Linked DNA regions of Homo sapiens. The protein of the gene in region 7 interacts with the protein of the main gene of each other region in a pairwise test. Each region holds a gene or a part of one and is shown on either strand. Other genes may lie near its edges.

Region 1 (4,324 bases), on a different chromosome or scaffold from region 7:
CTCCCCTAATGTTCCCTTCTCTAAGGGAACATATCCCACCTCCTTCAGGATACCATTATCCTGACCTTTAACATAGTTTAAGTGCTTTTTGTACATTCTAAAAAATAGAATCGTGCAGTTTGTACTCTTTTATATCTGGCTTGTTTAGCTCAACATTATATCATTATGTTCATATTGTTGCTTATAGCTGTAACATTTTCATTCTCAATACATCATATTGTAATTTTCATTTTGTGAATATACCATAATTAGTTATGCATTCTTCTGTTGGCGGACCTATGTATAGTTTTCAGTTTGGGGCTATTATAAATAGTGTGGCTATGAACTTTCTAGCAAATTTTTTCTGATTATATATGTAATTTTTGTTTTGTTTGGTTTTTAAATAGATGCAGGGTCTCACTCTTGCTCAGGTAGAAGGGTAATGGAGTGATCATAGCTCACTGCAGCCTTGACCCCCTGGACTCAAGCAATCCTCCTGCCTTAGTCTCTCAAGTAGCTAGGACTACAGGCATGCACCACCGTGCCCAGCTAATTTTTTATTTTTATTTTTAATTTTTTTACAGGAGCAAAGTCTCACTATGTTGTCCAGGCTGGCCTCAAGTAATCCTCCCGCCTTGGCCTCCCAAAGTGCTGGGATTATAGGCATAAGCCACTGCCCATGGTTTTATGTATATAGGTTTGATGGGTATATACTTCAGAGTGGAATTTATGCGCTCTAATGGATATTGCCACCCAGTTTTCCAAATGGTTGTAAAAGTTTATACTCCCATAGCCTCCAATGTGAGTTTAGGTTGGTTCATATCCTCCCTAACACTTGGTATTTCCCACCGTTTTCATTTTTGTCTTTTTCTTTCTTTTTTTTTTTTTTTAAACAAGGTCTCACTCTGTTGCTCAGGCTGAAGTGCAGTGGCACGATCTCAGCTCACTGCAACCTCTGCCTCACAGGCTCAAGTGATCCTCTCACCTCAGCCTCCTGAGTAGCTGGGACTACAGGCATGTGCCACCATGCCAGGCTAGTAGAGATGGGGTTTCACCATGTTGCCCAGGCTGGTCTTGTGAGCTTAAGCCATTTGCCCCGCTCAGCCTCTCAAAGTGCAGGATTACAGGTGTGAGCCACTGTGCCTGGCCATTGTTTTATTATTACTATTTTTTTAGAGACAGGGTCATGCTGTGTTACCCAGGCGGGCCTTGAACTCATTGGCTCAAGAGACCCTCCCACCTCAGCCTCCCAAGTGGCTAAGACTACAGGTACATGCTGCTGTGCCCAGATTTGGTTACTTTTACTATTTTTAAAACTAGTTTTGCTGGGCACCATGGCTCACGCCTGTAATCCCAACACTTTGGGAGGCTGAGATGGCTGGATCACTTGAACTCAGGAGTTCAAGACTAGCCTGAGCAACTGGCAAAATCCCATCTCTACAAAAAGTACAAAAATTAGCCGTCGCAGTGGTGCATGCCTGTAGTCCCACCTACTGGGTAGGCTGAGGCAGGAAAATTACTTGAGCCCTGGAGGCAGAGGTTGCAGTGAGCCAAGATCGCACCAGTGTACTCCAGCCTGGGCGACAGAGCGAGGCTCTGTCTCAAAAAAATAAAATAAATAAAACTAGTTTTTAGTTTGGCAAGTGAAAACTGGCATCTTGTTTACTTTGCGTTATTTTGGTTTCTGGCTATGGTAAATATTTTTAATTGTTATTGTTTTTTGAGAGACAGTATTGCTCTGTCACCCAGGCTGGAATGCAGTGGCACCTTCATAGCTCACTACAGCTTCAACCTCCTGGGCTCAAGTGATCCTTCGCCTCAGCCTCCTGAGTAGCTGGGACTGGACGTGCATGCTACTATACCCAGCTAATTTTTTTTATTTTTAATTTTTGTAGAGACAGGGTCTTGCTATGTTGCCCAGGCTGGTCTTCAACTCCTTGCCTCAAGCTGTCCTCCTGCCTTGTCCTCCCAAAGCACTGGGATTATAGGCATGAGCCACTACGCCCTGCCTAATGTTTTAGTTTATGGTGTTAATTGGTAATGACTTCTAGTGCTGCTTTAATGATATTAACTACTATTTATTGAGCACTTTCCTGACCATGACAAATAATGTGTTAAGCATTTTATACTTGTTATCTATTTTAATCCTCTGAACAGCCGAATCAGTTGTAGATACTTTTATTATTTCGTGAGTGAGGAAACTGATATTAGAGGGAAAAACTGACTTGTTTAAAAGTGCTGCATAGTTAGGAAACTCAGGTTATGTGATCTGTTACTGCACCATTTCCTCTCAACTTCTGTTAGTATAGAGGAGGAATATTCATATATATTTATAGGAGATTGGATTAAATGTATATGTATTCTAGATCCCAGATATATATGTCTGTAATTTAACTGGTTCTCTTGAAAGCAAAATGATCAAATAAGGTATTTGGTGGGGCTAGAGAAGATAAAAAGATTTTAGTTTGATTCTAATTAGAAAGTTGGTTATAAATGTTTAATCTTTTTTTTTTTTTGAGACGGAGTCTTGCTCTGTCGCCCAGGCTGGAGTGCAGTGGTGCAATCTCGGCTCACTGCAACCTCTGTCTCCTGGGTTCATGCCATTCTCCTGCCTCAGCCTCCCGGGTAGCTGAAACTACAGGCGCCTGTCACCACGCCCGGCTAATTTTTTATATTTTTAGTAGAGACGAGATTTCACCGTGGTAGCCAGAATGGTCTTGATCTCCTGACCACGTGATCCGCCTGCTTCAGCGTCCCAAAGTGCTGGGATTACAGGCGTGAGCCACCGTGCCCGGCAAAGCCGGAAGTATTCTTAAGTATTTCTCAAATTATGTTCCATTGCATACTGTTTGGGAAATTTCCCTACTTCCGGACCAAATAACCAAATATCTGTTAACACGCAGATAACTTTGGGTAACACCTAACTTTGGGTAAAACCTATTAACTTTATCCTAGAACTTCCCAAACCAATTTGTGTGCTCTTTTGTAGTAGACCTGTTTATGTCTTGTGGAACAACATGTCGATATACATCAGTTTGAGACAAAAGCTTATGTTACTCATCCTTTTATTTTGTAAGGGGAGGAAATGGAGATCCAGTGTGCGTTAATTTGTTGGCCTAAGATTACACAGCTACTAAATGGCAGAGCCAGGATCCGGTTTTTCCTTTGTACCATGCTTCCTCTAGTAATATTATTAATATGTAGCATTAATATTTATTCATCATATATTATGTTAAGAAGTTGTAAAGCAGACTTGAGTGTAATTGTTCAAATATTCCCATCTAGTCCAGTTATCAGTCTTACTCTCTGATAAATACATATACAGTTACTAAACTTCTGAGATTTATGTACATATGAGTAGCCTAACTTATTTAATATGAATACATATTTATAATCACTTGTTTGTATTTAATTATAGAGATGAAGAGAGTAATTTTTTTTGTAATTAATGTGTCACAATGTTTGGTTTAGTTTCTGTAGAAAATGTTTCCTGACTGCAATGAGGGAAAGCGGAGCACATTGTCCCCTATGTCGTGGAAATGTGACTAGAAGAGAGAGAGCATGTCCTGAACGGGCCTTAGACCTTGAAAATATAATGAGGAAGTTTTCTGGTAGCTGCAGATGCTGTGCAAAACAGGTAGAGTAAATGTGACATCTCTCTTCTTTGGAAGCCAAGTTTCTACTCTGAAATTCTTATTTGAATTTTCTTGGTTGGTGTTTTTTTTTTTTTTGAAAAGATGAAAGGTATTTAGACTGGGAATTGGATAGAAAAGGCCAAAAAAAGCTGTGGTCATAGATCTTACTAGATTATAAACTTACTGAGAAATGAGACTGAAAAAAAAATCACTGAATTTCATAATACTTAGCGTGGCATTTTTCTAAAAGTAATTTCTCATTGATTACTTGCTAAAGTAACTAAATTAGCAAGCTGGCATTTAGCTCATTTAAACCCCATTCTGGTACAAATTCACCCCTTAAGTTTTTCTCATGGTAGCATCATTATTGCAGCTTTACACATAGAAATGTTACTAGTTTGGGCACATGGATTTATGTAGTTTAAGGAACTCTCTAGCTCCTCACTTTACTTATGTATTTATGTATGTATTTAAGAAATCACAAGGGCCGGGCATGGTGGCTCATGCCTGTAATCCCAGCACTTATGGGAGGCCAAGGTGGGTGGATGACCTGAGGTCAGGAGTTCGAGACCAGCCTGACCAACATGGTGAAACCCCGTCTCTACTAAAAATAAAAAATCAGCCAGGTGTGGTGGCGCATGCCTATAATCCCAGCTACTTGGGAGGCTGAGGCAGAATTGTTTGAACCTGGGCGGCAGAGGTTGCGGTGA
Region 2 (4,324 bases), on a different chromosome or scaffold from region 7:
TGAGACAGCTCTACAAAACTAACATGGAACAATTGCCAAAGTTACAAAGTAAAGCAAGGTATAGGCCAGGCGCAGTGGCTCACGCCTGTAATCCCAGCACTTTGGGAGGCCAAGGTGGGCAGATCACTTGAGGTCAGGAGTTCAAGACCAGCCTGGCCAACATGGTGAAACCCTGTCTGTACTAAAAATGTAAAAATTAGCCAGATGTGGTGGCGGGCACCTGTAGTCCCAGCTACTCAGGAGGCTGAAGCAGGAGAATCACTTGAGCCTGGGAGGCGGAGGTTACAGTGAGCCGAGATCACACCACTGCACTCCAGCCTGGGCAACAGAGTGAGACTGTCTCAAAAAAAAAGTTAAGCAAGGTATAAAACAACGTACGTGGTATGCTACCATTTCTTTTTTTTTTTTTAAGGCTATATACTGGTATGTGTGGTGTTTTTGTTTTGTTTTGTTTTGTTTTTTTGAGACAAGATCTCACTCTGTTATCCAGGCTGGAGTGCAGTGGTATGACGACAGCTTACTGCAGCCTTGACCTCCCAGGATCAAGTGATTCTCCCACCTCAGCCTCCCGAGTACCTGGGACTATAGGCATGCAACACCACACCTAGCCGATTTTTTATTTTTTGTAGACATGGGGGTCTCGCTATGTTGTCCAGGCTGGTGTTGAACTCCTGGGCTCAAGTGATCTGCCTGCCTTGGCCTTCCAAAGTGCTGGGACTACAGGCATGAGCTACTGTGCCTGGCCTGTATGTGCTTTTATATGCATATGTATCTTTGAAGAGGGATCCAAGAAACAGTGGCTTACCTTTAGGGAGAGAAATCAGACAGCTGAAGGGGAAGGGGTGGAGGTTTCTTATCCTTGTTAACCCTCTTTACGCTTCCCCAGCCATACCGTCCAGAATTGTGCTTCCTATAGAAATAGCTCCCTGAGGAGCCTTGCTCACTCCATAGCCACTGCAGCACAGAAAAGCAGCGAAGGACTGCCAAGTGGTCCCAAGCCATCCAGCATTATCTGGATGGAATTAAAGCCCCGCCCAACCCCACATTACCCATAATGTGCTAAAAGTCTTTTTTAAAAAATCTGTATTCTTTAACCTGGAGATTTTCTTTCTCTCTTTTTTTTTAACTGCTCCTTGTAGAGCAGGGTGTAGGAAGTGTGCCCAGAATAGCCAGAGAACTTATTTCTAAGAGAATTGATCCTAAAGAAGAAATTTCTAAATTGTCAAAAATGTATACCAAGGAGGTTCACCAGTGTTGTTGATAATCAGAAAAAAACGGGACTCAACTGCAATGATGCAGAGACAGTGATGGGGTAAGTAGACCAGGAAATCGGCTGTGGGGAAGAGGGAGACTGGGGCATGGGGACAGTAGGGAAAGATTTTTCACTGTGTATATACACATTTTCTTCTACCTTTCAAATTTTGTACCAAGTACAAAAAATTCCCCAAAATAATAAAATTAAAGTTACAAATAAGTATATAAGCTTTTCATTGGGAAATGAGATAAGCAGTTTATCAACAAAAAGAATGGTAAAATTCTACTTAATAAACATAAGACAATAGGTTTAGATGTATTTCTCAGAGTAGAAAATAATACACAAAGACAGACACCAAAATATTAACAGTGGTTACCTTTAGTTGACAGGATTTGGGTGATTTTATTGTTTTTTGATTCTCTGAATTTGAAAATGTTTCCACAATACCAAATAGGCCTCCAAAAAATAAAGGTAAAAAATAACACAACCTTTTATTTTTTATTTTCATTTTTTTTGAGATGGAGTTTCACTCGTCACCCAGGCTGGAGTGCAATGGTGTGATCTCGGCTCACTGCAACCTCCACCTCCCAGGTTCAAGTGATTCTCCTGCCTTGGCCTCCCAAGTAGCTGGGATTACAGGCATGCACTACAACGCCCAGCTAATTTTTGTATTTTTAGTAGAGATAGGGTTTCACCATGTTGGCCAGGCTGGTCCTCAACTCCTGACTTCAGGTGATCCATCCATCTTGGCCTCCCAAAGTGCTGGGATTACAGGCGTGAGCCACTGTGCCGGGCCCACCTTTTAAATGTCAACCTGAAACCAAAGCCCGTGAGAGGCCCTGCTATGCTCCAGGCCCCTCCCATGCTACAGACGGCATGCTAACAGTTGGGTGGGGGGTCCTGTAAATCTCACCAATGGGTTCTGCACTCCTTGACCCTGCTCTTAAGCACTGACCTTCAGGAGCTTGAAGCGAGAAGCTGGAACAATGAAGTGTCTATTCTGCTTCTTCTTGCAAATGCTGCAACTACAGAAAGACAGAGCAAATTCCAGATTGTGAGCAGCCACCTGCATCCTCTATGCCTGAGCGGCCCAGCCATGAGAGCCAGCCGACCCCACAGATGATGCCCCTTTCAGCACCATCCAGGGCCGAGGAGCTGGGGCAAAGGCCTGGATAGCAGTGCCTCTGGTTTGCAGGTACAGCAGAGCCCAGGGGGGTCCCAAGTCAGCAGTCGAGGTTCTGCAATGCTCAGAACACAGGACCAACAGACAGGTCTGTACTGCCCACCCCTCAGTTCTTTACAGTGAAGAGAAGCGCTGGACTTCAGAGACACTTAGGAAACAAATTTCAGACACTGCTACAACCTGATGTCTCTGAGACATCCACACCAAAAATGGACAAGGAAGTTTAGGTTTCCCTCTTTCTTCATCACCACGTCACAAGAAGTCCAGCTCCAAGTAAAACACGTCCCCAGAATTACCATCTCTGGAATTAAACTGAAGTCCCCTCTTTTCAGGCCACCTTTGAAAAAGTTCTAATTTAGCACAGAATCCTCTCACAAGTTATTCCACAGTGCTTCTTTTCCAATCTGGACTCTATTGTTAGTAGCCTGGTCAGTTCTCCATTTGAGTAATTCCATCGTATGTGCTTATTATTCATATATAATTCCGGTACCTAGGGGCAAAAAGGACTGGATGCTGTTAAATAATTAGCTGCATGCCAACTTTGGGTCCCAAAGCCAGAGCCTGTCGTCCCTGCTCCATCATAACGCCGGGGAAGGTGGTACAAATCAGGCCCTCCACAGCCAGCAGTGCCATCTGCCTCAACCGAAGAGCAGAGCGAGAGTGGAGGGCCTGGGGAGCCTCCAGGTGTATACACCCTTTACTAACATACCCTCCAACTCTCCCCAACTCTAGACTTCTATGAAGATTCTGCCCAAGGCTTTCCACTCAGTACCCAGCCAGGCACACCTGCAGCTAACCGCCCCCGGCTCCTCAGCAGTGTCAGTCTGAGGGTGATGCTGCCACAAGCCACAAGCCCTGAGGACCCTGCTCTGTGTCACCTGGGCCATGCTGTTGAAGCTCTGTGATGAGCCATATAAAAGGAACAAAAATAGAACAATGAACCTTTCTGTCCCCATCACCTGACTTCAACAGTTACCAGCCCAAGGCCAATGTTTCCTCTGTACCCCAACTCCCCAGATTATTTTGAAATATTGCATTTTAACTCTGAAATTCTTTTAAGCCAATTTAGGGAAAAAAAAATACTCACTTGCAGTCAAATATATGCAAGTCTGCTGAGGCCCAAACTTCAAAACGAACTGCTCCACAGTGGCAGCCTCCTGTGTGCTTCACCAGGCCCTGGTATTCACTAAATGAAACAAAAATCAGAAAGATAATAATTTCTGAATAGCTGCCTCCTGCTCTCTTTTTGTTGCTGAAAGAAAGACAGAAGATTAGACAAAAGTCTTTTCTACATGACAACCAGATGCATTTCTGCTTTTAAGGAGGCACTGTCAATTTCCTAAGTGAAGAATGGTTTCAGCACCTTCTTTGTCCATGAGCTCTCTTTTCACCAATTTCTTAAATTATATTAAGTTGCAAAATAAAACATTCCAAACATTTCGAAAATGTGAGGGATCCTAACCCACCACCAGACATTTTTATTTATATGTCAAATACTAAATTTTTTTTTTTTTTTTTGAGATGGAGTCTCAGTCTATTGCCCAGGCTGGAGTACGGTGGCACGATCTTGGCTCACTGCAACCTCTGCCACCTGGGTTGAAGCAATTCTCCAGCCTTAGCCTCCCAAGTAGCTGGGATTACAGGCGCCTGCCACCGCGCCCTGCTAATTTTGTATTTTTAGTAGAGATAGGGCTTCACCATCTTGGCCAAGCTGGTCTTGAACTCCTGACCTTGTGATCCACCCACGGGGACTCCCAAAGTGCTGGGATTACAGGCGTGAGCCACTGCTCCGGGCCTCAAATACTAAATATTTTTATGAGCTAGGCACGAAGGAGAGAACACTAAACAAGATACAGCAGACACGATTGCTACCCTTACCGACCTTA
Region 3 (4,324 bases), on a different chromosome or scaffold from region 7:
TTCTATGCCCCCAACTGCCCTTCCTCATGCCCACAGCCTCCGGTGCTTTCTGTGGCCATGGCACACTGATAGTCATGCACATGAATCTGTTTCCTCTGCCAGACAGGGCACTGTCTCCTCCCGTCCCTGGCCAGGAACACAGGGCTGGCCCAGGGGAGGTGCCAGTAACTTTGCAGGATCAGCTCTCCTCAGAGGCTCTGCCTAGCCCAGCCTCCTTCCCCTTGAGCCCTGTCTCCCTCCTTTCGCTGGCCCTTCATCCCACTCCACTGGCTCTGGGACGCCTGTGTCACTCTGGTCCCAGTCTGTCCTCTAGGAGCCTAGGGCTTCTGACCAGTTTGTCACATGCCCCTGTTTCCCCTTCATGCTTGTCTCCTGTCTGTCCCACTGCCAAAGGGAACAGGCTGTTCTCTGCCCTGGTTCCCCTGAGGTGTGGGCATAGTGGCCTTGCACACACATGTCCTGTGGCCAGCAGCTTGCCCCACTGTACCATGGATCCAATCAATGTCCCCACTGCCGAGGAGGGTATGGAAGTCAGGCACTGAGCTCTGGCTGGGAGAGATGGAGGGACTGGCTCTTGGGGAATCAGCGAGTGCTTCCATTATGGAGTGACCTAGGTCCAGAGCTGAAAACCCTTTTTTTTGAGATGGAGTCTAGCTCTGTCGGGCTGGAGCACAATGGTGCAATCTCAGCTCACTGCAATCTCCGCCTCACGGGTTCAAGCAATTCTCCTGCCTCAGCCTCCCGAGTAGCTGGGATTACGGGTGCCCACCACCACACCTGGCTAATTTTTCTACTTCTAGTAGAGACGGGGTTTTGCCATGTTGGCCTGTCTCTAACTCCTGACCTCAGGTGATCCGCCCACCTCGGCCTCCCAAAGTGCTGGGATTACAGGCGTGAGCCACCATGCCTAGCCTGAAAACCCTTCTTAAGAAGTCATGTGGCCGAGCGCGGTGGCTCACGCCTGTAATCCCAGCACTTTGGGAGGCCGAGATGGGTGGATCACAAGGTCAGGAGATCCAGACCATCCTAGCTAATACGGTGAAACCCCGTCTCTACTAAAAACACAAAAATTAGCTGGGCGTGGTGGCGGGCACCTGTAGTCCCATCTACTCAGGAGCCTGAGGCAGGAGAATGGCGTGAACCCAGGAGGCAGAGCTTGCAGTGAGCCGAGATCACGCCACTGCACTCCAGCCTGGGCGACAGAGCGAGACCCCATCTCAAAACAAAACAAAAAGTCATGTGACACAGCAGTTGCCAAGCTTTCTGTGTGGCAGAGACCAGGCCAGGACTCCTGGTCTAGCTCTCTGTGGGCTGACTGGCCCCTGGACCTGGGGACTCAGTGGCCCAGCCTCCTTTCCCCAGGCAGGGCCAGGCAGGACTGACACTGGTCTCCCTGGGGACAGAGTTAAACGAAGTCCCTCCTAAGATCCCATGGGGTGGGGTGGTACAGTGGGGGGAACGCGAGTTGGAGTCAGGGATGACAGCCCAACCCTAAGGCCCTGTCCTATCCTTGCAGCTGTCTTCCAGTGTGGGGACTGGGAAGACACACGCAGCCCTCCTGATGCTAAAAGCCCACTCAGGACACTTCCCAGTTCCCCAGGCAGGCCGCCTCTCCATCTGGCTGCTGTGATAGGGACGTGTGCTCACCTTGGTCCCAGCGGGATGGCCTTTGCCTTTAACCCCAAAGATTTGAAACCTGCATTCTCAGCATAAGAGAGAGCAGGGGGCAGGGGGTCTGTGATGCCCCCAGGCCCTGCAACTGGAATGCACTAAGTGGTCGATGAGATAAAGAAGGGGCCCGCCTCTGCCTCTAAATCCTGACCTGCCACCACCAGGGACTCCCCAGGGGGTCTGCTCTGGAGCCACTCTGCAAACTGCAGAGGGCCCGGAACTTGGAAAGGAATTTAGGCTCAGGTCACCTTCGGGTCAGAGCAGGAGGGATGGTGCCATGGTGGCTGAAAGAAGGGATGTTGCAAGGACCTGTCAAGAGGCCCCGGGGACTTCAGTTCCTGACCCTGGACTGTGGGCACTGGCAGCGGCTGCAGGACTAGGTGAAGGTCAACACCGTAGGGGCTGGATGCTGGGGGCAGCCAGCCTACCACCTGCACCTGTGAGCCCAAGACGAGGGTTCTGACTGGATCAGCCTCTGCGGGAGGAGGTGCTCAGTGTTGATGCGCGCAACATGACTGCCTCCCGGGGCCTCAGAGTCAACTCTGGTGGAGGGAGGCCACCCTTGACTGGCTCTCCGGCCATAGGGCTTGGCTCTGTGCAGGGTGAATGCACGCTACAGCTGCACTCCCAGGCAACACCCCGAGGGAACAGGGAGGCATCAGACACCAGCCCCCCAGCCTCCTCTCTGGGCTGCCCTGTCTGTGAAGCAGAACCATGTGACTGGCAGGGCTGCTGGGGGGCAGGTCACAGGATCTCAGCACCATGGCGCTCAGGCAGGGACTCAGCTGTTTCCCAGGCCCGGGCCCTTGAGCCCCGTGGGTGGCTCTCATTCCTTCTTCCTTGCTCAGATTTATGGGAAGTCATAGAAAGCTGTCTCTTGGGATGTCTGGGAAAACAAGTTAGACACAAACCTAACGAGCTCCATTAATTGTCATGGCTTTGCAAAACAGACCTTCCTATTTGCTCCTCATGTAGCATTTTAAGCTGTCATCCCTGAGTGATGACTGCAGATGTGGATGATGATAGTCTGATGAGCAGACTAAATCTGAACATCCTGTTTTGATGTAGGGATGCTTGCTGCACCCCCACCCCATCCCAACACAGAGGACAGGGTGAGGAACCACGGGGCTTCCCAGTCCTAGAGTCCTGCTGAGCCGGGAGAGTTCAACCTCGCTATTTTTTTTTTTTTTTTTGGAGACAGGGTCTCGCTCTGTCACCCAGGCTGGAGTGCAGTGGTGTGATCTTGGCTCACTGCAGCCTCCACCTCTTGAGCTCAGGCGATCCTCCCACCTCAGCTTCCTGAGTAGCTGAAACTACAGGCATGTACCAACATGCCCGGCTCATTTTTTCTATTTTTTTTTTTTTGTAGAGGTGGGGTCTCACCATGTTTTTCCCAGGCTGGTCTTGAACTACTGGGTTCTGGTGATCCACCTCAGCTCCGCGAAGTGCTAGGACTGCAGGTGTGAGCCATCGCACTGGGCCTTGACCTCACTTTTAACTCTGAGTCCCACCTCCTGCCAGGAACAGGAGGGCCTCTCCCGGGTCCATCCCCATCCCTACCACAGAGGACACTGGACTGGAATATTCTGTTCACACTTCCACCATCTCAGCCAGCCCAAATGCTACAGGCAGGGATCAAGGTGACCTGTCTCTATCTTCCAGGGCAGCCAGGATGGGGTCCAGCCCAGCATGGTACTCATCAAATGCTCTCTGACTGACCAAAGGCAGAGATACTAGAGTAAGAAGGAGCTGCTAGGGACCCCTGACTCTCAAAAGCTGGGCGGGCCTTTGTGTTTAAGACATAATTCAAGTTCAACAGATGAAGAACCCTGGGCAGGGGTCACCCTGACCAAAATAACAGTCTGGGCAAGAGCAGAGAGAGAGGGTGTGGGGCAGGACAACTGAATGGTGGATGGTGGGGGCAGGCCAGGGCTCCGTGGAGGCAAGGACTTGAGGTTCACCCTGACAGAACTCCAAGTCTTTGCCAGCTATTGTGTTAGGTGCTTCTAACCCTACCTGGCACAGCGGAGCCCTGGAGAGATACATAGGGCAGGAGGAGGACGGAGCAAACACACAGACCCCAGCCAGATTGTGCTGCGAAGCGTGAGAAAGCCTCAAAGGTATCACCGCTCACACAGAGAAGTCTTTCTCAAAACAGTTTTGCAGGGAGATGAGGGAGGGAGAGACTCATGCATGATCCTACCTGAAGGCGTAGGTCTTCTGATGCCAGCTCAGCTGTCCCCGGATGCTGTATGCGATGGTGGTGACAAACTCCCCGCCCAACCCCAGCTCCGAGCACAGCTTCAGGGCAAACTTCTCTGGTGAGTTCTCCTTCTCTGACATGTCCCACTCAAACTGGTCCACCAGGGAAATGTTTCCCACATGGATGTTCAGCTGAGGCAACAACCAAAGGACACAAGTTAGAGCTTTTGCAGCCCAGGGAGGCCGCGAGGAGCGGGGCCCTGCCAGGCCTGGGGTGGGCCCTGCCCACCAGGGTCCACCAGCTGAGAACTGCAGGTGGTCCTTGTCCTTCCAGTTCCCCATCCCCAAAACAAGGCTGACCCCACAACCCTGTCTGCCATGAGGGGCTCTGGCTCAGGGCCCAGCACAGTCACCCTCGGGAGGCCCTGAAGTGACCCCGGGGGCACCTGAG
Region 4 (3,398 bases), on a different chromosome or scaffold from region 7:
CCGGGTCCTCGCTCAGCTCATTTTTCTTTATGCTGTGCAATCTTCTGACTCAGCCTAGGAAAGCTGCAACTGTTTGTCAGGCTTTATTTCACTTCCCCTCCGGTTTATTTATAGGTAATATTGCATATCCTCTCTACTTCCTTAAAGTATTTAATCACTTATCTATACCTGTCACCTTGTTCAGATCTCTATCATTGTGTTTAACATACTGTTTTATAATTATCTATTTATAGATATGTTTCCCTATTAAATTATAAGCATTTTGAGGGTAGGGACATTGTCTTATTTGCCTTTGTCCCCCCAGTGTCTAGCCCAGTTTCTGACACACAGTAGGCACTCTAAATGTTTGTTGCATGGATCAAGAATGAATGAGCCCTTACATGTCCTGTTCTTCTCTATGTATAGACTACCTAATTAGCACCATTGACTCCCCAAGAACCTGAAATAGAATATTCCTTTCTAATGCTCTGAAAGAAAGTTTCTCAGAGATTTCTGAGATGTTAACACTGAGAAATGTCCGAATTATTACAGTTCCTAATTGAGGACACCTAAGAAGGCATGGTACTCTGACAAAGGTAAGTAAAGAGAGGCAAGATGTCTCACTGGATTACTTCCTGTTTATGGCTAGTGTTGTTGAGTCAGGGACAGAGGTGCATTCCTGAGCCTTTCAGTCATGTATCCACTGGTGGCCACTTTTGTTGTAACCATTTTTTTTTTGAAATGATGTCTTACTCTGTTGCCCAGGCTAGAGTGCAGTGGCGCCATCTTGGCTCACTGCAACCTCTGCCTCCTGGGTTCAAGCAATTCTTGTGCCTCAACCTCTCGAGTAGCTGGGATGACAGGCGCCCGCCACCATGCCCGGCTAATTTTTCTACTTTTAGTAGTGATGGAGTTTCACCATGTTGGCCAGGCTGGTCTCGAACTCCTGACCTCAAGTGATTCACTCACCTCGGCCTCCCAAAGTGCTGGGATTACAGGTGAGAGCCGACATGCCCAGCTGTTGTAACCATTTTTATATTTATTTATTTATTTATTTATTTTGAGACAGAGTCTCGCTTTGTCGCCCAGGCCGGAGTGCAGTGGCGCTATCTCGGCTCACTGCAAGCTCTGCCTGCCGGGTTCATGCCATTCTCCTGCCTCAGCCTCCAGAGTAGCTGGGACTACAGGCACCCACCACCACGCCCGGCAATTTTTTTTTTTTAGTAGAGACGGGGTTTCACTGTGTTAACCAGGATGGTCTCGATCTCCTGACCTCATGATCCACCCGCCTTGGCCTCCCAAAGTGCTGGGATTACAGGCGTGAGCCACTGCGCCCAGCCTGTTGTAACCATTTTTAAAAGCGATACTGTCATCCCTGTGGAGAGAATTTATAGTAGATGCAGTCTGCTTTTGTCATATCCTCTCTATGTCTGCACTCCTCAAGTCGATGGTAGGAATTAAACCTAATGAATGGTCCTCTGAAGAAGAGTGACAGCATCCACCTAATCATAAGGAGATTCTGTGGGAGGGAGCTGAGCAGGTATTGTAGGAAAAGATGTCAAGGGAACAATTCAGAGTGCAGGAACCCACAAGAGTCACAGCACCTTGTGCCTGTGGGGTGTGTAAGGACAGGGGAGGCTGCTCCTGCTGACTGAGTAAACGCCTCAGGATCATGAGCATGGTAAAAAAAAATGGATTAATATATTTGTTTTTTACTTTGAAGCTTATGGATTCCTTCCCTTCCAAGAGAAGAAAATCCTCTTTCTCATTTATGTCAATTATAATTTAACCTTTAGGTGTGTGGTCCCAAGCAGCACATTATTGGCAAAAGACAGCTCAGCTCATCATTTAGAACCGGACAGCTCTTTTAGATTTTCCGTCATTCACATTAGCTATGTTGTGAACAAAGTGATGCATAAGGCGAAAAAGAAGCTTGAGACAGAACTAAAGAGAACAAGTTCCCAGTGTCCTCTCTGACTTGTAGCTGCTGGCTGATGGAAATTGGAAATGAATTTGATCCCATAAGACATTTATTTAAGGCTCTCACTGGTATGTAGCAAATGAAAGCCTAAAGGGGTGCGTTACAAGTACAGACTTCTCAGGAAAGCGCTCTCCGACAGTCGGCTTGCAGAGACAACTCTCCCTCCCTCACCTCCCTCTCTGTGTTAATGATACTTGTGTTCGTGTTAGTTGCCCCTTTCCCTCTCTCACAGCCAGTGCCCAGCAATGAAGTGAATTCATGGCACAGGAGCCAGGGACCGTGACAACGGTGCCCTCAGCAGCCTGGTGTCCTCTGGCCATTTGCTGTCATGGCTACAAAGTGCTCCCTCTTTTCAGTGCCTCCAGGAAGCCCGCCAGTGGTGAGACTGTGTCCTCAAGGAGCTTCGGCACCATGTCTGGTTTGGATTCATCTAAATAAATATGTGGTTCCCCAGTGCCTACGTGTCCCTGTATTTGAGACTTTCTATGAAACATTTGGAAAGTTGCCATCCTTTAGCCAGGCTGTAAGGAACCACAGGGCCTTAAGACTCCCCTTTATCTTCCCACAACCACATTCGCTTCCACAGAGGTTTCTAACACTGTCCTTTTCCCTAGACATCTACGACACAACTGAATTCAACCCTCCACAGTACTAAGTGCTGGAAAGAGATGCCGAAGATGACTTGCTCTCTGCCTCTATGGGCTTTCCAATTTAAGTTGGGATAACAGGACGCACATCCACCACAAAGAGGCAAACAGCAGAACACAAACATGCACATAGCTAATTATAGACAGAGCCCCAAGACCTGAGGGCTGGAATGATACTCAAGAAATTGGAGGGCTGGGCAATGTGGCTCATGCCTGTAATCCCAGAACTTTGGGAAGCCGAGGCGGATGGATCACTTGAGGTCAGGAGTTCGAGACAAGCCCAGCCAACATGGTGAAACCCCATCTCTATAAAAATACAAAAATTAGGCTGGGCATAGCGTCTCACGCCCGTAATCCTAGCACTTTGTGAGGCCGAGGCAGGCGGATCACTTGAGGTTAAGAGTTCAAAACCAGCCTGGCCAACACAGTAAAACCCTGTCTCTACTAAAAATACAACAAAATTGGACAGGTATGGTGGCGAGCGCCTCTAATCCCAGCTACTCAGGATGCTGAGGGAGGAGAATCGCTTGAATCCAGGAGGCGGAGCTTGCAGTGAGCCGAGATCATGCCACTGCACTCCAGCCTGGGTGACAGAGCAAGACTCCATCTCAAAAAAAAAAAAAAAAAAAAAAAAGCAAAGTATTTGGAGCAGAGTCTCATTAAACCCAGGAAAAGAATAAAGGTGAGGTTCCCTTGATTATCTTTGTTTTCATTCTGATGACAAATAAGATATTGAAGGTGTTCTGTGATAGAATCTGCAGAAGATGATAACAGTTCCTCCTATCTTTGTA
Region 5 (4,931 bases), on a different chromosome or scaffold from region 7:
ACAATACAAGGAACGAAGGAAAGGTAGAAAAAAATAAGCCATGTTTCATGTTTGTCATTCAGGGAAACTTAAAGCGGGATGGGGTCTTACATACTTTCTATTCTAGGCTTAACAGTCCAAATTGTATTCATCCTTTATCTACCAGTTTAATCCCTACCTCCTCCAAGCAGATTCTCTCCATAGGTTTTGATCCCCAGAGTTAACCTACCCTGCACTTGTAGTCTATTACAACCCTGATCTGATAATGACTGATCATTTTTTCAGGTAACAAAATCAACACTTTTTAAAAACTATAAACAGCTATAAAATGCTAGTTACTATCATTATTCTCTAATTCTTTCACTAGTAATCTTCAAAAAAACCTTGCAAACCTAATCTTTCCACACCCTGCTTAAATCCTTTCAGTTGTGTCCGTTTTTTCTTAGAAAAAAGGCATAAATCCTTTGAATGTCCTACAGATCTTGCAATGTCTGGTTCCTGCTTATCCCTCTAGTTTCTTAAGGAGATAAACTTCTTCCCATCACTGAGCTTCTGCATGTGCAGAAGCCCTGGAAACCTTGTCCTTTACTCCTAGTTTGACCTAGTTAGCTTCTGCACATACCAAAATCTGTTTTCATTCATCCCAAATCTGTTTTCACTCTCATTGAACCGTAACCGTGTTCCTTTGTGTGAGACAACTCATCTCGGTTTGTATTTATGTATCGTTGCTTTGATTATTGAACTGAGTATCTCTCCCACTAGAAAATAAACTCCATGAGATGGGGGACATTACCATTCACATCCCTGGGAATACCAGGCACTCAGCTGATGCCTGTCGAATGTGTTAGGTTGCCTCTTCCAACCACACTGCAGGCATCCTGGTGCCCGCTTTGGCTGGACTGCACTGGGGGTGGCAGGACGGTTGGGCGCGGAGGAACTACCCCGCGGATGAGAAGAAAGGTTTTAAATAGGAAACATTCCTCAGTCGGCGGTCAGCTTCTCTGGTCTCGCGCGGCTCAAGCCATGCTTTGGGGGACGCTGGGCGAAGGCTCTGGCAAAGAGGAATGCAGACCCCAGGATCCGCACTCGCCCCCAACGGCAGTCCGGATCCTCGACCCGGCACCCACCTCCCGAAGCAGCTTCAGGTCCCCGTGCTGGATCTCGTACAGCTGAATGACGCCGGTGCCCCGTGCGAAGTTGCCCATGGTCACAAATTTGGCGCTGCAGGGCACCCACTTACAGTCAAACACCGTGTAGTTGAAGCCCTTCTGGATATGGGCGATGATCTGAGGCTTCTCGAAGGCCGACATGGTGCAGCCAATTTCAGCTACGGCAACCGCCACACCCAGAGCCCCCAAAAACGGCAACCTGGAAACCAGACTCCAAACATTGGCAATTTGTCCCTCCCGCTTTCCGTATTCTGCCCCAGATGCCCTGGCATGTTGGCTGTAGTTATCCCCGGATAATGCCAGATGCGCTCCTGCGATCGCACAGAATGTTCCTTCACAACAGCACGAATTTGTTTATCGCCTTTACCCACTGCCTTTCGCACACATACATACTAGAGATTACAAAATACTTGGGCTGGGAGTTGCGCGGCTGGAGTGAGCCCAAGACCATCAGGCATATCTTAGGACAGCCTAACCCCGTTTTCCCCCCCACCGGCCCCAAATCCTGCAGGTCCCCGGCCTGTGACGTTTTAGGAAAGGGGCGGAGCTGCAGGGGTGGTTGGCTGAGGCTGGCTTCTGCGTGGTGCAGCTGCGCACGTGTTTCAGCCGGCAGCGCTTTAAGATTTCCGGGGATGGAATCCGAAATGGAAACGCAGAGCGCCAGGGCAGAGGAGGGCTTTACCCAGGTCACCCGCAAGGGTGGCCGACGGGCGAAGAAACGACAGGCTGAACAGCTGTCCGCAGCAGGAGAGGGCGGGGATGCGGGCCGCATGGACACAGAGGAGGCCAGGCCGGCGAAGAGGCCCGTCTTCCCACCCCTCTGTGGGGACGGGCTCCTGGTATGTGGCTGGGACCCTAGGACAGCAACGAGGCAAGGGCCAGACGCGGATCAAGCCGATGGCCTCTGGAGAATGTTGAAGCTGCGGTGGGGCTGTTCTGCCGTGATGCTCAGAGAGAAGTGATTCTTTGAAGTGTAACTAGTTCAGTTAAAGGAGGCCCTTTGTGGATCAGATGTCATTTTAAACTCCATCACCGTCCCTCCATAGCCTTCTGAGTTGTGTGTTCTTTTATTTACAGAGTGGGAAAGAAGAAACAAGGAAAATTCCAGTCCCAGCTAACAGATACACACCATTGAAAGAAAACTGGATGAAGATATTTACTCCTATTGTGGAACATTTGGGACTTCAGATACGCTTTAACTTGAAATCAAGGAATGTAGAAATCAGGGTAAGGAAAATCTCAATCATTTCCCAATACACCAGGCTTTCTCTCCTACAGAGATGAAAAGGCATGAATAGGCTTTACTTAATGGGACTTTTCTGTTGTATGGTTTTTGTCCAGTTTAAAAATTTACCATATTGAGTTTGAACTTCCCAAATGCCTTAAAAATCTGCATTCGATACAAATATTAATTGAATTTGTAAATTAGTTCTGAGATCACACCAAAATACTGGCTCTTCTTCTGTGTATCTTTTATAATGTTCTATGTCAAATTGAGAAAAGGTCGAGTAAAGAGATTGCCATAAACAGAAGCAGGTAAATAATGAATATAAGCACTTGCTGCTTTACAAGAAGTATATACAGTCAGCGTCGGGAATATGTTCTGGGATATGTTTTGTCAGATGACTTAGTCCTTGTGCGAATATTATAGAGTGTACTTACACAAACCTAGATGGTATGTGTATATTTGTTTATATATTTTTTTCATATGGAAAACCAAATGTCCCAGCACCATTACTGAATATCAGTCATTTCATCTACTTGATCTGCATTGCCGGTATCCAGTGCCATATATCAGGTTTCTGTATATTCTCCATTATACTGTTATGAGACCACCATGGTATGAGCGGTTGGTCACTGATCAAAATGTCATTATGCAGTGCATGACTGTGTTTTAATGGTGCTCTTTTGATTAAAAAATGTATTATTTTGATAAGAAACATGCATATATATGTGTGTGTGTGTGTGTGTGTGTGTATATATATCTTTTTATTTTGCTCTTTCACCCAGGCTGGAGTGAGTGGCATGATCTTGGCTCACTGTTAACAGGTGCCTGCCACCAAACCTGGCTAATTTTTGTATTTTTAGTAGAGACTGGGTTTTAGCATGTTGGCCAGGCTAGTCTCGAACTCCTGACCTCAGGTGATCACATCTCGGCCTCCCAAAGTGCTGGGATTACAGGCGTGAGCTGCCCCACCGAGCCTATGTATATATTTTAAATTCTGTGCTATCAATCCGGGAATTAGACATTTAAATTTACTTTGGGCTTTCTTTTCTGGGTGCCAATTTCATACCAGAATCGATAACCGAAATTAATTATATTTTCCTTTTTAAGGATTCTTTTACCATCATCCGGACTGGTATAGTCTCATCTCTGTTAATGGAATATAATAATGGAACAAAGAAAGGCACTATTCTAAATAGTTGATAAAGTGTAAAATATCATAGAACATGATAGAGTAACTCCTCTTTGTCCCTGTTGCCATTCTCTCATTCAGGCTTTTATGGTTTCCTGCCAAGGAGTGGTTTCGTTGTAGGTTTCCCTTGCTTCATTGTTTGACGTCTCTCCTTTCTCCACTCATCCATCTGCCAGTGCCAGATTAAGTTTCCCAGATCACAATGCTTTTATGACATCCTGGCATCTTCAAAAAACAAAAAAAAATTTTTTTTTTTTTTTTTTTTTTGAGATAGAGTCTTGCTCCGTTGCCCAGGCTGGAGTGCAGTGTCGCAATCTCGGCTCACTGCAAGCTCCGCCTCCTGGATTCATGCCATTCTCCTGCCTCAGCCTCCTGAGTAGCTGGGACTACAGGCACCCACCACCACGCCCGGCTAATTTTTTGTATTTTTTAGTAGAGACAGGGTTTCACCGTGTTAGCCAGGATGGTCTTGATCTCCTGACCTCATGATCTACCCGCCTCTGCCTCCCAAAGTGCTGGGATTACAGGCGTGAGCATCTTCAACATTTCTAAAGGAAAAAGTTTTGGACTTAACTTGCTTTTCAAGTAGGAGACTCAGTCACAAGTTTGTCTCTCACGGATCATAAAGTTTGTTTATGTCCATACTTTTTGGTGGCTTTGGCCTTTGAAAGAGGTCCGCTCCTCCCTACTCCTTTCTCTTTATACTTCAGTTCCAGTATCTTTCCGGGTCTAGCTCAAGTTCTTTCTCTGTTATGGTATGTCCATTTTTCAGTCATATCTTCAGTGCCTAAACTTTTCATGTGCTTTATTGTCCTATTTATTGCAGGATAATCACTTTGGATTCCACTAACATTTGTTGATGCTGCCATATACCAGACACACAGTGGTATTACACCATGCTCTACATCATTTAGTCTTCAGGATATTCCCATCTTAAAGATGTGAGGAAACTTGGCCACAGTCATCAGTCTAATAAGGGAAATTTTCTATTATACTAGTAGGGAACACTCAGGATCTTCTACTCTGACCTCCTCATTTTACTGATGAGAAAACTCAAGACCTAAAGTATCTATGGGACTTGTCTAAGGTCACATATAGGATTGGAACTAGGGTCTAGTTTTAAATGGGAAAGCTCTGGGGACTCTCCCATTGCACAAGCCCATATGGTTTTACATTTGTTGAATACGTGGTCTCTTCAACTAGACTGTGAATGTGCATGGGACAGTGGAAATAACAGTTTTGAAATCAGACCTGTGTTTAAATCTTACCTTTTTTGCTTTTTAGTACTTTAGTTTCCTCACATACGAAGGTAGTCATATCACTTAACATTCAAAGTTGTTGTGAAGGTTAGAGTTATGGTGTGTAA
Region 6 (4,324 bases), on a different chromosome or scaffold from region 7:
CACTGATATGGTGACCTTCCACAAGTCACCTCAAACCTCTGGGCCAGTTTAAAAAAAATGGTGAAATGAGTCCTGCCCTTACCTGCCTACCGGGGCTGGCCGAAGGATGGTTATACGTAAAAGGACTTGAAATGTGGTTTCGACAAGGACTTTTTGTTGCTATCCTGAGGAAAGATGGATGGGTCACTCCTCCAGGGAATATGAGAGGTAGTATAAATGAACAGTTGCAGAGAGCAATGCCCATTTCACGGATGGGCACACTCTTGGCATCAACTCTCTTGGTCCAATGGCAACCCTATATATTGCACACGGGACACTTTCTGTGGGGACTCTGAGATGCAGAGGGACCAGATAACAAGCAGGAAAGGTAGGGCCTGGTGTGAGGGCACGAGACTCACCGACATCCCTGATGACAAGCCTGTAGGTCCCTCGGGCTCTCTCCCCCCAGCATCGCACAGTGGAGAAGGTCCAGTCATTGAAGCCGTTGGGATCCCTGAGGAAAGAACACAGCAGAAACAGGTGGAAGGCGTGGGCCAGAGAGCTGACCTTCCCCCAGCAACACTTTCTTACTGTAGTAGCCGTGGAAACAACCTGGGAGGGTGCCACGAGGGCTTCTCAGGTGCCCCTTTCCCCTGGGGTCTCATGGAAGGAGGAAATTGTGTTAACGTGGTGTGGTGGAAAAAGCAAGCATGGAGCGCGCACAGGCTTGGAGTCCCACGGATCTAGGTTTATTCTTGTTCTCTTGGGCACTTACTAGCTCCATGACTTGTTTTCTTTTTCTTTCTTTTTTTTTTTGGAGACAGGGTCTCACTCTGTTATCCAAGCTGGAGTGCAGTGGCATGATCACAGCTCACTGCAGCCTTGACTTCCTGGGTTCAAGTGATCCTCCCACCTCAGTCTCCTGAGTAGCTGGGACTACAGGCATGTACCACCATGCTCAGCTAATCTTTAAATTTTTTGTAGAGACAGGGTCTCACTTTGTTGCCCAGGCTGGTCTTGAACTCCTGAGTTCAAGTGATTCTCCTGCCTTGACCTCCCAAAGTGCTGGGATTACAGGTGTGAGCCACCACACCCAGCCAGTTTCCTCATTTGTAAAAGGAGGTTACAAAGTCTAATCTAGGGGGTTCTTAGAAGGATTAGAGAACATGTATGTGAGGTGCAGGGCCTAGCGCTTGAAGAAGGTATGTGACGAAAGGCTTCCAGCCGCCAGGGATAGCCAGTGCCACAGTAGTTTAGGACAGTGCCAGGATCCACTTCTTCCATTTCTTTTCCCTGGAAAGGCCCTTGCTGAAAAGGTTGCTCAGGCCTCGGGCGGGTGTACATACGAGTCCATGCTGCGGGGGGCGCCGATGAGGGACATCATGCCACTGGGGCAGAACAGCTTCAGCTCCAAGCTGCCGCGCCGTGGGTGAGTGATGGAGACTGTCACTGCCACATGCTCCAGGGTCTTCAGCCCTGACATCTCCAGGTCCATCCTGCTGACTGTAGAAAGTCAGGCTGGGCAGCTGGGAAACCAGCCCACAAACACGCCTTCACTTCACCCCCACGTACACAAAGACACACGCTCACTGAAGCCACATACAAACATCTACGGCAACCCTAACTGGGACCTCGCCTATACTAGTAAATGGAATGGAGCTGCTGCTCTCAAGTTTACAACGTAGCTTCGAGTGCAGTTGGGAAGACGACACATACCCAAGACACAATATAAGAATCCAGCAGAGCAACTTCAATCATTCATTCATCCAAAACATTATTTACTGGGTACCTCCTCCATTTCAGGCACTGTACTAGATGCTGGGAATATAAAGATAAGATGGGCGTGGTCCCTGCCTCCTACCTGCAAGTGGAAAATGATATGGTATGGGAAATATACATAATTGATAAGGGAAGAGAAATAAGTCAGATGGGTTTAGGCACACAGCAGTGAGACACACTGAAGGAAATGAATACAGATCGGTAGACAGGGTTGGTAGAGGGCATTCTAGGCAGTGGAAAAGGCATGAACAAAGACGAAATGCACACATCTCACTGAAGATGATGCACAGTTAATTTTTAAAAAATGCTGGTGGATAAATTTCAAGCAAATTATGTGAGTGAAAAAAGCAATCTCAAAAGAAGCATATAGCCAGGTGTGGTGGTGTGCACCTGTGGTCCCACTACCGGGGAGGGTGAGGTGGGAGGATCGCTTGAGCCTGGGAGGTGGAGATTGCAGTGAGCCATGCTCATGCTACCACACTCCAGCCTGGGCAACAGAACAAGACCCTGTCTCAAAGAAAAAAAAAAAAAGAAAAAGGATGCGTAGCACACAATTCCATTTAGGTGATGTTAATTGAAGTACCTGCAGTGATACATAACAGATAAATGGGTGCCAGGGGCCAGGGACAGGGGAGGGGATGGGTGTGGCCAGAAAGGGGTAACACAAAGGAGTCTTGTGATAATGGAATTGTTCTGGATCTTGGTTGTGGTGGTAGTTATGCAAGGCTACATGTGATACAATTGCATACAGCTACACACGCGCATACACAAATATTGACAGCATGTGTATCTGGTGAACTCCAAATAAGCTCTATGGATTGTACCAATGTCAATTTCTTGGTTTTGATATTATACTTTAATTGTGTGAAACATTAAGATTGGGAGAAGGGTGCACGGGACTTCTCTTGTACATTTCTTTGAAACCTCCTGTAAATCTACAATTATTAAAACAAAAACAAAAACAAAAAACTACTGAAGAGGAAGACTCAACTGGGGACTATTAAGAAATTAGGCTGTAATGAGAACGATTCTTTTTTTTTTTTTTTTTGAGACAGAGTCTCTCTCTGTTGCCAGGCTGGAGTGCAGTGGCATGATCTTGGCTCACTGCAACCTCTGCCTTCTGGGTTCAAGCGATTCTCCTGCCTCAGCTTCCCAAGTAGCTAGGACTACAGGTGCACGCCACCATGGCCACCTAATTTTTGTATTTTTAGTAGAGATGGGGTTTCACCATGTTGGCCAGGATGGTCTCAATCTCTTGACCTTATGATCCACCCGCCTCAGCCTCCGAAAGTGCTGGGATTACAGGCGTGAGCCACTGCACCCGGCCGAATACAATTCTTTTTAAAGCACCCTTTCTTCCATTAATTTATTCCAGGCCAGGCATGGTGGCTCACTCCAGGCATGGTGGAGGATAACTTCAGCCTGGGAGACATCATCTTTACAAAAAAATAAAAAATTAGCTGGATATAGTGGTAAGCACCTGTGGTCCCAGCTACTCAGGAGGTTGAGGGTGGGAGGATGGCTTGAGCCCAGGAGGTTGAGGCTGCAGTGAACCATGACTGTGCCTCTGCACTCTAGCCTGGGCAATAGAGTGAGAGCCTGTCTCAAAAAAAAAAATTATTCCAATATGCAAGGCAGAGTACAATACCTTGATTTTACAGACACAGTAGCTCAGAGAGGCACTGAAAGTAGGGGCTGGGTAACCTAGGGTGGGATGCGCTTTAAAGATTTTTGTTTTAAATAAGCAACTAAGAGCTATTATAGATGACTGAGCAAGGACAGGGGTGTTTGTTTGTTTGAGACGGAGTCTAGCTCTGTCACCCAGGCTGGAGTGCAGCGGCTAGATGCTTGGCTCACTGCCACCTCTACCTCCTGGGTTCAAGCAATTCTCCTGCCTCAGCCTCCCAAGTAGCTGGGATTACAGGCGCATGCCACCACGCCCAGCTAATTTTTGTAGTTTTAGTAGAGACGGGGTTTCACCGTGTTGGCCAGGCTGGTCTCGAACTCCTGACCTCAGGTGATCCACCTGCCTGCCTTGGCCTCCCAAAGTGCTGGGATTACAGGCACGAGCCACCACACCCAGCCTCATTTTCTATAATTCCATCTGTCACCTCTTCAAAGCCAATGTCCCATTTCTTTGAAAACAACCTCTCTCCTTCCACTTTCCCCACTCTCTTCTTGACCCCCTCATTTTCCCACAACCCCTCAAGCTCCTTTCTCCTAACTGGCTGAGATTCCATGGCTCATCCAACATGTGTGTTTACATTCTCAAGCTCCCTTCACTTTCTTGTCCTTTCACAGCAATACTTGGCAAAAGTCAAACAATGGCTCAGCCTGATTATCCATCTTCTTGGCTAGACCTTTTTGCTAGCACCTTTCCTACTACAAATGAAAAACAAAAACAAATAAACCCTTTCTCAGTTCTTCACTTCCTGCCACCTACCAGTGTTAAGAGCATGGGCTCTGGAGCCACTAAGCTTGGGTTCTAATCCCAGCTCTGCCACTTACTAGCTGTGAGAACTGTTTCCTCATCTGTAAAATGGGGCCAGTAACAGTACCTACTTCA
Region 7 (3,500 bases):
CTGTCTCTTCTAAGGACGCCGCGTGGATCTAGGACTCACCCCAATCCAGGCTGATCTTGTCTCAAAGTCTGTTCCATAATGACACCTGCACAGACCCTCCTCCCAAATAAGTCACGTTGGGAGCTTCCGGTGGATGCGTCTCTTGGGGGATTTGGCACAGGATGGAGGCTTCAATGTTCCCTGTCTGGTCCCCTTCCTTTCACACATGGAACTGAGGCTCTGAGAGGAAACAAAACAGGCCGCAGGCAGTGGAATGTGAGTCGCAGGCAGGGCTGGAGCTGAGGCGACCATGGGCCAGGGTTGGTACGTGGAATCCCATGCCGTCCTACGTGCATTCTGCGTGGAGTGGCCCAGCCAGGGTTCTGGCAGGTGCCCCCGACGGCACTGGCTTCCTCTCCAGCATCCCTGTTCCGTTCGTCCATCCCGCAGCACTGCACCCACTCCCCACATGCACGTGCACGCTACACGTGTGCCCCCAAGTGTGCGCCCCACCGCCTCCCAGCCCAGGCAGCTGGTCGTGGGCGAGGCAAGGAGGGGCCCCAGGGAGAAGGAAACTCAGGGCCTGAGGGCGAGACCATGGAGGATGCCAATGGCCACAGGGGCACGTGGCCCATTGCCCTCCCACTTGGACACTTTGGGGTGCGTGTGTCTGGAGGGGCCAGGAGAGTGGAGGGGACGCAGTGGAATAGAAGCTGCCCAAGGCGGTGGGGGTGCGGGGGCTCGTCCTCCTGACCTCCAGGCTGCAGCTGCAGGCTCTGCAGGGCCCGGCACTCGCCCAGTGAAGGCAAGGTCTTGGAGTGGTGGCGGACGGTCACCTCTAGAGATGATGTGGTCTCGCGTTCCAGTCAGGGGAGCGCCCAGCCCCGCAGCCCCCAGGCTGGGCTCCTCATCCTGTCCTGGTGGCCAGAGTGGCAGGCGTTGCGAGCAAGTTCAGGGCTGTGGTGTCAGGTGCGGACCTCCAGCGCGCAGAGCCTCATCCGAATACCGCTCACCGGTCAGAGCTCGGGTTGAGGGGGCGCGCTCCTAACCCCATTCTCTGGGGCCTCCTGGTGCAGAGGAAGCTTCCTCCAAGATGAGGTAGGAGATGGGAGGCAGCTGGCCACGGCCTCTCCGCCACCCACCCCACACCCTCCACGCCCCCGCCACTGTCACTGGGCCGTATCACCCATGATCCCCCCCTCGAAGGGAGGACGAGGTTCCTAAATCAGGCAGCAGCTTCCAGCTCTTTCCGAGGGGCACAGCGGGAGCTGCCATTTGTGACGCTGTCCAACCCAGCAGCCACTGGGTGTGTTTAATGGTAAGTTAGTTCACATCAGAGGCAGGTCAAGAGCCAGGACCGCAGACACACCCAGCTAATGGCTGCCACGCTGGACCCAGCAGATAGTTCCATCATCCCAGAAGGTTCTAGAACAACACTGGGGGAGGGCGGGCAGCAGACAGCACAGGCTGGGCAGGTGGGAATTCACCGTCAGGGACAGCCGGCAAGCAACACGCGGTGCCCCAAGGACTGTGGGAATGGGAGAGACCTGCCAAGACACATGTCCTGTGTCCCGGGGAGCCAGGCCAGGCCTTGGCACAAACAAGCACCTTCGGCGGGAGAGGAAGACACCGGGCAGGGGAGCAGCTGGGGCTGAGCCCATCTAAGCCTACCCGCTCTGGAGGACACATCTGCTGCCAGGACTGCCCAGCCATCCACGCACCCCCTCCCCACGATGCCAGTATCAGGCCCGGCGAGACTCACCGTTTTCCCGGTGCTGGAAGGAAGGGGAGAACTCTTTGGCAGTGATCCTGGCGATCCGCGCCTCCTCCTGGGCTTTCTGAGCTGCTGTGAGGGCTGCCTCGGCCTTTGCCCGAGAGTGGGAGGTCCTGGGGGAGACAGGGAGGAGCGTGAGGGGGGGCAGGGGGCACAGGTGACAGGGGTCTGGGTTGAGGTACTCTGCCAACCCCCCAACAACGGGCTGGGCTAAGACAAGATGCTGGCACCCCATGTTTACCCTCAGACTTCTGGATCTTGTTCGTTCATTCATTCATTCATTCAATAAACATCACTGAGCATCAACCAACCAGGCCCAGTGCACAGGACATGCTTGAAAACACCTCTGGGCAGGGCATGGTGGCTCACGCCTGTAATCCCAGCACTTTGGGAGGCCAAGGCAGGAAGATCGCTTGAGCTCAGGCGTTCACGACCAGCCTGGGCAACATGGCAAAAGCCTGTCTCTGCCAAAAATACAAAATTAGCTGGGTGTGATGGCACGCATCTGTGGTCCCAGCTACTCGGGACACTGAGGCAGGAGGATTGCTTGAATCTGGGAGGTGGAGGTTGCAGTGAGCTGAGATCGCGTCACTGCACTCCAGCTTGGGTAATAGAGCAAGACTCTGTCTCAAGGAAAAAAAAAAGGGGAGGGGCTGGGCACAGTGGCTCACGCCTGTAATCCCAGCACTTTGGGAGGCTGAGGCGGGCAGATCATGAGGTCAGGAGTTCAAGACCAGCCTGCACAACATGGTGAAACTCCGTCTCTACTAAAAATTACAAAAATTAGCCGGGTGTTGTGGCACGTGCCTGTAATCCCAGCTACTCAGGAGGCTGAGGAAGGAGAATTGCTTGAACCTGGGAGGCGGAAGTTGCAGTGAGCGGAGATCACGCCATTGCACTCCAGCCTGGGTGACAGAGCAAGACTCCATCTCAAAAAAAAAAAAAGAAAATGTTTCTGTTCTTATTATCAACAAACATCAGCATGTGCACAGAAAGAGTCCAAGCCCAGACAACCCACCCCGGCGGTGCCGGCCCGCTGTGCTGTGTGTGTCTGTGCTTCCTGCCACTGCCCCGGTGTGGGTTGCGGGACCACCTCCCTGCCCAGTAATCCCAGCAACTCTGACTTGGGAACCCAGGGCTTGGGCAGCTGGGCAGTTCCCTCACCCAGCCGAAAGATGACGCCGACACCCATGTGTGACACGAAGGAGCCATTGTACCTGTGGGCAGCCGGGCACGTCACCCCTCTGGCCGCTCCCTGACTGTGTCTCTCCCTCTGCTGAGTCCTGCAGGGGACCTGCCCACCCTTTGTAAGACAAGGGACTAGACAGACGTCCCGAAGGCAGAATGTGGGGCTCTGTGCATCTCAGCAGCCTGGGGCTTGCATTTCTTCCTACCTGGTGTGCTGGCCCCCGGGGGGGCCTGCCAGTGGCCATGGGCACCACTTCCCCAACAATGGGGAAACTGAGGCACAATGACCAATTCCCCCACGACAAATCCCCCCTCCGAGCAGACTCCCTGGGAGGTCTCCTGTTCACGGTTCCTGACTTAGCCTGTTGGGGCTGCAACAAAGCACCGCAGCTTGGGCGGCTCATCAATAGCAGACATTGCTTTCCCCCAGTTCCGGAGGCTGGAAGTCCAAGATCAAGGTGCCAGCAGATTTGGTGTCTGCAGAGGACCCACTTTCTGGGTCCTGGACAGCACCTTCCTGCTGGGTGCTCACATGGTAGAAGAAGCGAGGGTGCTCTCT

What was found.
Region 1: the proteins of JPH3 (region 7) and RNF138 interact in binary tests that used the Homo sapiens proteins (3 or more experiments, as listed by UniProt).
Region 2: the proteins of JPH3 (region 7) and CENPV interact in binary tests that used the Homo sapiens proteins (3 or more experiments, as listed by UniProt).
Region 3: the proteins of JPH3 (region 7) and SMARCB1 interact in binary tests that used the Homo sapiens proteins (3 or more experiments, as listed by UniProt).
Region 4: the proteins of JPH3 (region 7) and MYBPHL interact in binary tests that used the Homo sapiens proteins (3 or more experiments, as listed by UniProt).
Region 5: the proteins of JPH3 (region 7) and PNO1 interact in binary tests that used the Homo sapiens proteins (3 or more experiments, as listed by UniProt).
Region 6: the proteins of JPH3 (region 7) and PCSK7 interact in binary tests that used the Homo sapiens proteins (3 or more experiments, as listed by UniProt).

What each region holds. Positions count from the first base shown.
Region 1 is NC_000018.10:32,108,304-32,112,627, forward strand, and holds part of RNF138 (E3 ubiquitin-protein ligase RNF138), read left to right. Parts: intron 1-3,450; coding exon 3,451-3,616; intron 3,617-4,324. UniProt on the Homo sapiens protein: E3 ubiquitin-protein ligase involved in DNA damage response by promoting DNA resection and homologous recombination.
Region 2 is NC_000017.11:16,346,406-16,350,729, forward strand, and holds part of CENPV (centromere protein V), read right to left. Parts: intron 3,625-4,324; coding exon 3,526-3,624; intron 2,281-3,525; coding exon 2,211-2,280; intron 1-2,210. UniProt on the Homo sapiens protein: Required for distribution of pericentromeric heterochromatin in interphase nuclei and for centromere formation and organization, chromosome alignment and cytokinesis.
Region 3 is NC_000022.11:23,824,966-23,829,289, reverse strand, and holds part of SMARCB1 (SWI/SNF-related matrix-associated actin-dependent regulator of chromatin subfamily B member 1), read right to left. Parts: intron 4,066-4,324; coding exon 3,875-4,065; intron 1-3,874.
Region 4 is NC_000001.11:109,291,383-109,294,780, reverse strand, and holds the end of MYBPHL (myosin-binding protein H-like), read left to right. Parts: intron 1-531; coding exon 532-542; 3' UTR 543-575; intron 576-1,775; exon of another isoform or gene 1,776-2,192; 3' UTR 2,193-2,416; downstream 2,417-3,398. UniProt on the Homo sapiens protein: Myosin-binding protein which plays a role in cardiac function. Seems to regulate conduction in the atria and ventricular conduction systems.
Region 5 is NC_000002.12:68,156,155-68,161,085, forward strand, and holds the start of PNO1 (RNA-binding protein PNO1), read left to right. Parts: upstream 1-1,733; 5' UTR 1,734-1,780; coding exon 1,781-1,987; intron 1,988-2,225; coding exon 2,226-2,375; intron 2,376-4,931. Other genes in the region: DNAAF10 (dynein axonemal assembly factor 10), read right to left, coding at 1,107-1,289. UniProt on the Homo sapiens protein: Part of the small subunit (SSU) processome, first precursor of the small eukaryotic ribosomal subunit.
Region 6 is NC_000011.10:117,207,572-117,211,895, forward strand, and holds part of PCSK7 (proprotein convertase subtilisin/kexin type 7 preproprotein), read right to left. Parts: intron 1,483-4,324; coding exon 1,326-1,482; intron 494-1,325; coding exon 399-493; intron 165-398; coding exon of another isoform or gene 111-164; exon of another isoform or gene 82-110; intron 1-81. UniProt on the Homo sapiens protein: Serine endoprotease that processes various proproteins by cleavage at paired basic amino acids, recognizing the RXXX[KR]R consensus motif. Likely functions in the constitutive secretory pathway.
Region 7 is NC_000016.10:87,682,508-87,686,007, reverse strand, and holds part of JPH3 (junctophilin-3), read right to left. Parts: intron 1,867-3,500; coding exon 1,742-1,866; intron 1-1,741. UniProt on the Homo sapiens protein: Junctophilins contribute to the formation of junctional membrane complexes (JMCs) which link the plasma membrane with the endoplasmic or sarcoplasmic reticulum in excitable cells.